2 linked regions of the Homo sapiens genome follow. The protein of the gene in region 1 purifies or fractionates together with the protein of each later gene. This does not show direct contact. Each region holds a gene or a part of one and is shown in the gene's direction. Other genes may lie near its edges.

What was found. The genes of interacting proteins can lie anywhere in the genome.
Region 2: the proteins of AP1S3 (region 1) and VAMP4 purify together in Homo sapiens (pull-down; one study listed by IntAct). This does not show direct contact.

Annotation. Positions count from the first base shown.
Region 1 is NC_000002.12:223,764,053-223,769,342, reverse strand, and holds part of AP1S3 (AP-1 complex subunit sigma-3), read left to right. Parts: intron 1-3,992; coding exon 3,993-4,130; intron 4,131-5,290. UniProt on the Homo sapiens protein: Subunit of clathrin-associated adaptor protein complex 1 that plays a role in protein sorting in the late-Golgi/trans-Golgi network (TGN) and/or endosomes.
Region 2 is NC_000001.11:171,731,348-171,736,637, reverse strand, and holds part of VAMP4 (vesicle-associated membrane protein 4), read left to right. Parts: intron 1-5,290. UniProt on the Homo sapiens protein: Involved in the pathway that functions to remove an inhibitor (probably synaptotagmin-4) of calcium-triggered exocytosis during the maturation of secretory granules.

The DNA of each region.
Region 1 (5,290 bases):
TTAGTGAAACTTTTAAGTTTTATAGACTACTTTGGAGGACCACATTTTAGTATTTATCAATTTTAAATATACAAATCCTTTGACCCAAAATTCCCCAAGGAATTTATTCCTACACTATACTCAAATTAGTATACAATACACAACAAAAATTATGGCAGCATCATTTAGAATAAAAACTGGAAACAGCCCAAAGTCTGCCCATATCCATAAAGGAACTGCTTAAATAAACTGTGATATACCCCCAGTATGCCATGGTAATTCTGTATGGAAGTTGGATTCATTTGGATCTGTTGACTTAAACCATGTTCCTTGTGAAGTTTGCTAGTTTATTGACCTAACTTGTAAGTATATGGAGGAATTTGCTAAAATATTGACATCTATTTCATGCAAAGTTATAGCATTCAGTACAACCATAGAATTGTATCTGGGATGCCATTAATCTCTAGCATATTAGAAACAAGGCCTATATTTATTTATTTTTATTTTTTGAGAAGGAGTCTTGCTCTGTCACCCAGGCTGGAGTGCAGTGGCATGATTTTGGCTCACTGCAACCTCTGCCTCCTGGGTTCAAGTGATTCTTCTGCCTCACCTTCCTGAGTAGCTGGGATTACAGTCGTGCACCATCATGCCTGGCTAATTTTTGTATTTTTAGTAAAGACAAGGTTTCACCATGTTGGCCAGGCTGGTCTTGAACTCTTGACCTCAAGTGATCTGCCTGCCTCAGCCTCCCAAAGTGCTGGGATTACAGACGTGAGCCACCATGCCCAGACAAGGCCTCTACTTAAACTTGCTCATTCATTTATCTTACAAGCATTTTTTGTGTCTTACAATGTGCCAGAAACCAGGGATATAAAGATAATGAAGACAAAGTTTCTGCCCTGAACTCACAGTACGGGGGAGTGATTAGTAATCAATAAGCAGAAACTAGTGCACAGAAGATGTAAGTGAGAACCCACAGGAAGTGATGTGAAATCTGAATGGGGAAAAGGGGATGTGGGGAATCGCCACATGCCTGACTTTTGAATTTGGCCTTGAAAAAATGAGCTTGGTTTTGCCAGCAGGAGAATAAAGAAAAGGACATTTGGGGACACAATTCAAGAATTGTTGGAATGTGCAGAAAGCAAAGGCACAAAACACCGTGACATTGTGAGTTTGTGGCATGTGTGTCAGATGCATGGATGAGAACTGGCACGGGAAATCAGACAGCAGGGCCCAGGCTGGTAAAGATTCCTATATGCCTTTGTCCTGAAGACCTTACACTGGAGAGGCACAAGATCAGCATTTTAGCTAAGCATTAGTGGTCAATGGCCCTGAGCAGGCACAACCGCCACCTGGAAGGTCATTGCAGTGGCCTGATGGAGAAGTGCTGTAGGCCTGAGCAGCAGCTGTGAAAGCAGAGAAGACAGGAAGGGTAGGGACTTATTTAGACAATAGAATCAGTAGAAACTGATGACCAAATCCAGAGGGATGAGATCAAGGAGGGAGAGGAATGAGTGGGGAAGGGGAAGTATGTTGGTTGAACTCTAGAATGAATTAGATGGAGAAATTAGAAAGAGATTGCAACTACTAAGCAAAATAGGGACTAAAGGAAAAAGAATAATCTTGATATCAGCTTGGGACATAGTGACATGGATTGAGGAATAGGTAGGTAAAGATGTCTAGTTAGTGGGTGAGAATATTGGACTAGTGGCCCAGAGGGAGATCAGGGCTAGTCATCTAGGTTTGTTGAGCTACCTGCATGCTAGACACAGCTGTAGAGAGTCAGCAAGATTGTCCAGGAGAATATGCATTTTGCAAAGAGAAGAGGCTCCCTTGAGGAACATGAATATTCAAGCAGAAGATGGATGGCTAGAATATAAGCAACATGCAGTAGAGATGTTTGTCTGTTCTGTTGACTGATATGTGCTAGGCACACCTTAAATACTTCTTAAACAAATGCAGGGTAGGAGGGAGATAAATTATCCAAGGAGTCTGAGAAGGAATTATCAGAGATAGACAAGAAAAACAGGCATTAAGTGGTATTGCCAAAATCAGGGGAGCAAGGGAGAAGAGATTTTCAAGGAAGAGAGATTGGTGAAGAGTACCACATGTGGCTGAGAGGTAAACGTTGGGGAGGTCTGGAGACTTTCTTTCTTTTTTTTTTCTCCTCCCTTTTTCTAAAATTACACTTTAAGTTCTGGGATACATGCACAGAATGTGCAGGTTTGTTACATAGGTATTTATGTGCCATGGTGGTTTGCTGCACTCATCAACCTGCCATCTACATTAGGTATTTTGCCCCCCACCCCCCAACACACTCCGGTGTGTGATGTTCCCCTCCCTGTGTCCATGTGTTCTCATTGTTCAACTCCTACTTATGAGTGAGAACATGCCGTGTTTGGTTTTCTATTCTTGTAGTAGTTTGCTGAGAATGATGGTTTCCATCTTCATCTGTGTCCCTGCAAAGGACATGAACTCATCTTTTTTTATGGCTGCATAGTATTCCATGGTGTATATGTCCCACATTTTATTTATCCAGTCTATCATTGATGGGCATTTGGGTTGGTTCCAAGTCTTTGCTACTGTGAACAGTGCTGCAACAAACATACATGTGCATGTGTCTTTATAGTAGAATGATTTATAATCCTTTGGTATATACCCAGTAATGGGATTGCCGGGTCAAATGGTATTTCTGGCTCTAGATCCTTGAGGAATCACCACACTGTCTTCCACAATGGTTGAACTAATTTACACTCCCACCAACAGTGTAAAAGCATTCCTATTTCTCCACATCCTCTCCAGCATCTGTTGTTTCCTGACTTTTTAATGATCGCCATTCTAACTGGCATGAGATGGTATCTCATTGTAGTTTTTGATTTGCATTTTTCTAATGACTAGTGACAAAAGCTAAAATAGACAAATGGGATCCAATTAAACTAAAGAGCTTCTGCACAGCAAAAGAAAGTATCATCAGAGTGAACAGGCAACCAACAGAATGGGAGAAAACTTTTGCAATCTATCCATCTGACAAAGGGCTAATATCCAGAATCTACAAAGAACTTAAACAAATGTACAAGAAAAAAAACAACCCCATCAAAAAGTGGGCGAAGGATATGAACAGACGCTTCTCAAAAGAAGACATTTATGCAGTCTGGAGACTCAATGAGCAGAGTTTCAGGAGAACAGCTTCAGTTGGGTGGGTGGGGTATGGTATGGAAAGAGAAGGTGTCAGTGAGTAGAGGAATAAGTAGGGAGTAAGACAGCAAGGATGGTGTGTGAGTACGGGAAATGAGCTTTATTTGGATGATGGGAGTGATCTTGCCATACTTGCTACACTTAAATAAACACCAAAATCTATCAGACTCTGCTTTGATCCGCGCCAGGGATTCTGGATGTGAAATCCCGCAGTCCGGCGGCCTCAGCATCACCTGGGAACCTGTTAAAAGTGCAGATTCTCAGTTCTCATCTAGACCTCCTGAGTCATAAACTCTGGGGGTGGGCTGTAGCACCAGTGTGTTTTAATGAGCCTTTGGAATGAGTTTGAGAACCACTGGCTGTGACATAATTTTGAGAAAAATTAGCACAGTTGAGCTAATTTTCCTCTGAAGAATTAGTTTCTGAGAGAGTTCTAAAGCTAGAAGCCAAGATTTACAGAGCAGAGAGCAGGAGAAACAAAGCTCTGCCCTCCTTCCTGGAATGCAGCTGGGGCTCAGTTTTCTTGGTGCAGATAGGAAGAGGAGCCGAGTGGCCTCATTCCCTTACTGAGCCTCAAATTTCCTGTTGTAACACAAAACATTATTATCTAAGGATGTGCTTTGCTTTAATAGAATGTAGCATTCCATTTATTAAAGGCCTGACATTCCCTGTTCTTTTTTTCTGTCCTTAAAATGCCATCTGATATTTTTATTTTTGGTACGCCACATGAGTGCAAACTGAAAAAGCTCGAGATTCGGGCAGATGTTTCCCCTGATACAACTGCAAGTTTATCAAAACGTTTGTTTTTGTCCCACCAGGTCTGTGAGCTGGATATTATCTTTAATTTTGAAAAGGCTTATTTCATCCTGGACGAGTTTATAATAGGTGGGGAAATTCAGGAAACATCCAAGAAAATTGCTGTCAAAGCCATTGAAGACTCTGATATGTTACAGGAGGTCAGTACGGTTTCCCAAACCATGGGAGAAAGATGATGATGATGATGATGATGGTGTTAATAATTATAATATTAACCAGACTTACTGAGTACTTACTCTGTGCTGGGTACAGTTTCTAAACTATTTATATGTATTAGCTTATTTAATCCTCACAACAACTCGAAAAAGTAGGTGGTATTGTTACTCCCACTTTACAGATGAGTAAACTGAGACACCAAGAGGTTAAATGACCTGCTCAATTTCACACAGGAAGTGTGGAATTCCTCTATTCCACTAGGAAGTGTGGCATAGAGATTTGAACCCAGGCAATTGGGCTTTAGAGTCTTTGCTCTTCACATTTGGATGAGCTTTGGAGTGCAAGAGTCCTTCACTGCCAAAAAGGTATCAAATACTTAGTGCTATTCTTTTCAAGAATAATTTTATGAGATGTATAAAAAGACTTTCATTAAAATACCTATGCTTCCCTGGGAAAGGAGAATAGCAGTACATTGTTATTTTGTTTGCCAGAGATATTAAAGCTTTATTATTGAGCATGGCATTTATCATTTTAATTAAAATTTCTTACACCTTTTGGGAAGGCTGTATGTGTGCTCCTGCTTGCATAAAGAAATTGGGAACACTGTGGTTTGCTTGCCAAGGTATAAATGGGCCCAGAAGCATCCATTTTGTACTGCCCTGGACTCTGGGATTTCTATATAAAATAAAGTGGGAATGTTCTTTTAGAAGCCGCACAGATTTGCATCATACCTCCTCAGGGAACTTACCTACATCAGCCCCTCCATTCCTCCCAGGACACTGTGAGAAAGAGCACTTCACCCCACTGACCTCTGCCCTCCCAAATGAGATGCTCTGAGGGGCTGGGTTCCATCCCAGACCTGCCACCCCTAGATTCTTCTTCCCACAGCCTCAGTGGGTCTTCCCATCTTCCTATTTTCAAATAAGTAGGTCAAGAGGATCCAGAGCATTGTAAAGCACCTTTTTAAAATCAGCATTTGGCCGGATGCGGTGGCTCACTCCTGTAATCCCAGCACTTTGGGAGGCCGAGGCAGGCAGATCACTTGAGGCTAGGAGTTCAAGACCAGCCTGGCCAATGTGGTGAAACCCCATCTCTACTAACAACACAAAAATTAGCCGGGCATGGGGATGTGTGCCTGTAATCC
Region 2 (5,290 bases), on another chromosome or scaffold:
ATAGAATCCACCAATAGATTAATTGCTAGCAAGCTTTTACTAATAAACTTTAAGGAGTCACCAATGATTTCCATGTTGCCAAATCCAGTTACTCCTTCTTTGCCATAATTTCAACTGCTTACTAGCATTTGGTGCAGTTTCAACCATTTTGGTCACCTATCTTTTCCTCCATGCCATGGTGAAACTCTTAGTGTCTGCTTGAGCTAGTTCCCCATGCAAGGAATTGAGAAATGCCTTGAAATATACCAAGTCTGGGTGAACCCGGAAGGCTCTGGCCGAGAGAAGGCAGAGGATGATCAGGGATTGAGAAATCACTCAGGGATAATCCAGGGTCTCTTTCTTTAATGTAATATCTTTCAAGATAAACCTCCAAGAAAAAGTGATTCAGAAAATTTGATATACCTGTGCTGGAATTCCATACACTGAAGATTTACTATCAAAAGCATGTCTTGGCCAGGCGTGGTGGCTCGCGCCTGTAATCCCAGCACTTTGGGAGGCCGAGGCGGGCAGATCACTTGAGGTCAGGAATTCAAGACCAGTCTGGCCAACATAGTGAAACCCCATCTCTAGCAGAAGTACAAAAATTAGCCAGGTGCGGTGGTGCACACCTGTAATCCCAGCTACCTGGGAGGCTGAGGCAGGAGAATTGCTTGAATCTGGGAGGCAGAGGTTGCAGTGAGCCGAGATTGTGCCATTGCACTCCAGCTTGGGTGACAGAGTGAAATTCCATCTCAGAAAGAAAAAAAAAGCATGTCTTTACAAAGCAGAAGGTTTGGCGAAATACTAAACCCATTCAGAGAATAAATGTCAATTTGTTAAAGTAAATGATACCAATTGTGAACCTATAAAGGAACCCAGTGTAAAACAACACAGACTTGATATGCATCCAGTAAAAGCTGACTGAAAGCTCCTGATGAATATTCAGTGATCAGCGTGCACAAAGCATGCTGAAATATTTTTTAAATCATCGGTTAGAAGAATCTGAGCCTCTTTCCTATTGCCCCAAGGAAATCTTTAGTCACTTACCCAGAGATGCTTGCAAAGCATTAATATCCTGGAAGATGATCAATAAATGCTGACAGTTGATTGACTGATATCTGAGATATGTCAGGTAAATACCTCAGTCCTGGACAGAGAGCCCCTAAGTCACATCTGCCTTTGTGTAAGATGAAGACTGAAGTATGGAAATGTATGTAGTAAAATCACCTCTCGGAACTTGTTTGTAATTCATACAATCTATGTCAATTTTGAAAAATGTATGTAAAGCAGAGAAGGTTGTAGCCAAATTCAATGTATAGTATGCAAGAGTATATTATTTAATAATTTTTAATTGATGCAAATCCCATTAATTTTATAGTTTTATTTTTACATGATTTTAAACTGAAACTATTTATATTTCCTAAGTTCCCCTGTGTTTCTTTCTCACAATCACTGCTGAACGTAAATTTGTTGTTCACTTAATGGAATCACTGTTAAGGACACAGTCACTTGAATATGATTGCTTTTTAAAAATCAAGTCCAGGCGTGATATACTAGGATCACAGTTTCATGGCATGTTGGTCATAATCCTGAGAAAATAGTGACAAAATTATTATTTGTAGATATTAAATACCAGTTTAATAATATGTGTGGAAATCAGATTAAATAGTACATAAAGCCCACCCTAATAACAAGGGCAGGAAAAATTACTTCAAGAAAAACAATAGTAAACCTTAAATTAAAAATAATACAAATAAATAAGCTTTATGAATACATTTTTAAATTTAAAATGTATTGTCTCAATAAATTCCACTGCTGAGACTGTAATTGTATCACTTTCTCCTTATATTCTTCATTGATTATTAGTATATTAGACACCAGAACTGAATAAAATTGACTGTTTCAAGAGAACTCCTTTTTGATGTTTATTATATTATGAAGTTTGATAACTGATTGGTTAGAATAATATATAAATTACTTTTAAAATCTTTTAAAAGTTTTGTTCCTCTTTCCTATTATACTTTTTTGGTAATAGCTTTATTGAGATAAAAGTCACGTACCATACAATTCACCCACTTAAAGTGTACAATTCAGTGAGTTTTATTATATTCACAGAGTTGTGCAACAATCACCACAATCAATTTTAGGATATTTTCATTAGCCCAAAAAGAAATGCTGTGCCCTTTTGCAGTCATCTCCCATTTTCTTTATCCCCTCAGCCTCTAAGCAACTGCACTCCTATAGATTTGTCTATTCTGGACGTTTTCTGTAAATGGAATCATATAACATATAGCCTTTTGTGACTGGCTTCTTTGACTTAGCATAATGTTTTTAAGATTCCTCAACGTTATAGTGCATATCAGTGCTTCATTTTTTTTTTTTTTTTTTTTTGAGACGGAGTCTCCCTCTGTTGCCCAGGCTGGAGTCCAATGGTGCGATCTCGGCTCACTGCAACCTCCACCTCCTGGGTTCAAGTGATTTTCGTGCCTCAGCCTCCCAAGTAGCTGGGATTACAGGCGTACACCACCACGCCCAGCTAATTTTTGTATTTTTAGTAGAGATGGGGTTCCACCATGTTGGCCAGGCTAGTCTCGAACTCCTGACCTCAGGTGATTCACCCACCTCGGCCTCCCAAAGTGCTGGGAGATCTTCATTCCTTTTTATTGCTAATAATATTCCCTTATATTGATATAACACATTTGGTTTGCCCATTTATCAGTTCATAGATGTTTGGGTTTTTTTCTACTTTTGGCTATTTTAAATACTACTGCTATGAGCATTAGCATACCAGTTTTTGTTTGAGCATGTTTTTATTTCTCTTTGGTGTATACCTAAAGGTAGAATTGCTGAGTATTGTAGTAACTCTCTGTTCAGCCTTCTGAAGAACTGCCCAGCTGTTTTCCAAAGTGGTTGTACAATTTTTACATTCTCACCGGCAATGTATGATGATTCTAATTTCTCCACATCCTCACCAACACTTAATATTATCTGCCTAGTGGGTATGAAATATTATCTCATTGTGTCCTATTATTCTTTTTTGACACTGTATCCCTAGCACTTGTGTTTATTCAATTAATATATGAAAAAGCATTGGTTTTCATGTGTGTTTCTCAGTGTACAATTATAGTAAACATATCTTTAGTATCATTATCCTCTAAACCAAATAAATTATTACTATTACTATTATCATTATTATTTTGAGACAGGGTCTGGCTTTGTCACCCAGGCTGGAATGCAGTGGCACGATCAGGGTTCTGCAGCCTCCTCCTGGGCTCAAGCAATCCCCCCAAGTAGCCTTCAGAGTAGCTGGTATTACAGGCATACACCACCACGCCTAATTTTTTTTTTTTTTTTTTTTTTTTTTGTAGAGATGGGGTTTCACCGTATTGCCCAGGCTGGTTTCGAACTCCGGGGCTCAAGTGATCCTCCCTCCTCATCTTCCCAAAGTGCCAGGGTTACAGGCGTGAGCCACCATGCCCGGCCATAAACCAAATACATTATATTATAAATGTAATGCTTGTCTGTTACTTGTTAGCTAGAATATTACTCAAGAAATATTTATTTAAAAAATGACCTAATGCATTTCCTTGAATATTAATTGGTTTTGAACATTTCATGTGGTCATTGGCCATTTCTTCTATTGGGAATTATCTATTTCTATTCTTTGTTTTTCTATAATGTCTCTTTTTCTTACTAGTTTGTCAAAGCTTTTTATATAATACAGACATCAGGTCTTTTGTCTTAAAGGATACTGCAGATGTTTTTTCCCAGTCTGTTGCTTGTTTTTTAACCTTGTTTTTGATGTCTTATGTTCAAGTTTTAAATTTTTATATAATCAAATATGTTAATCTTTTTCTTTCAGACTTCTGGAGTTGTGTGTTGTTTAGGAATAACTTACCCATCTTAAGAGTTAACTATTTATATATTTTCAATCTTTGTGATTTCATAACAAAATATGTCTAAGGTCCCATTTTCCTTTAAGTACTGCTGTGGCCATACTCTTCAGATTTTGACCTGTGATCTTCCCAGTGTCTTTCATTTCAAAATAGTCTAATCACCTTTATTTACATTTAACATAAAAGTTAATGAGAAGGATGTTTTTTGTTTTTTGTGAGGTTTTTTGCTACAGGGTCTCCTTTTGTCACCCAGGTTGGAGTGCAGTGGCATGATCATAGCTCACTCTAACCTCAAATTCCTGGGCTTAAAAGATCCTCCCATATCAGCCTGCTGAATAGCTAGGACTACAGGCATGAGCCACCATGCCTGGCTAATTAAATTTTTTTTTTTTTTTTTTTTTTCCCATAGAGACACGGTCTTGCTATGTTGCCAGTGCTGGTCTTGAACTCCTGGGCTCAAGTGATCCCCCCACTTTGGCCTCCCAAAGTGCTGGGATTACAGGTGTGAGCCACTGCACCCAGCTGAGAAGAGTATTTTAAAACTTCCTTTTTCCATCGCATTATGGTCAGAGAATATGACTTGTGTAATTTCTATTTTTTGGAATTTATTAAATGTCCTTTGTGGCTTACCCATAAAGGAAAATAAAATAAAATTTGCTGTCTAGTTTCAAAGTTCTAGATTTTTTTGTGTGTTTGGCTTCTCCATCTCTGAAGGGTATGTTAAATCCTCCCTATGATTTTGATGTAACTGTTTCTCATAATTTGCGCAGCTTCTGTAAGATACTTTAAGCTATATTATTAGGTATTTAAACATTCGTTGCTATTAAATCTTCTTGATGGATTGTATATTTTATTATTGTAAAATCATCTTATTTGATTGTTTAATACTTTGTCCTAAAATTCCTCTTTATATTGCTAACTGTAACATTCTTTTTGTTAGAATTTGCTGATGTTTCTTTTCTACCCCTGCTTTTCCCCATCCTTTATTTGGTATTTGTTTTAGGTGAATTTCTTGCAAACAGATATTGGCTAGAATTTTTTTGAACCCTAATCACATATAGTTTTTGTTATTAAATAGGGACATTCAAACCAGTCACATTTATTGTGAATAACTAATACACTTGGACTTTTTCTGTGCCAGCCATCTAGTCCTGCAGCAATGAATGCTCTTCACCCTGATCTTTGGCTGGCTCTTTGTTATTTGGATCTCAGCTTAAATTTCACCTCTTCAGAGTGATTTTTTATGACAGCCTAATCTCATGTAGTCACCCCATCACTTTCTGTCCCATCACTGTTTTAATTCTCTGCATAGCATTTGTTGCAATCCTGTTTTTTTTATTATTATTATTATACTTTAAGTTTTAGGGTACGTGTGCACAACGTGCAGGTTAGTTACATATGTATACATGTGCCAT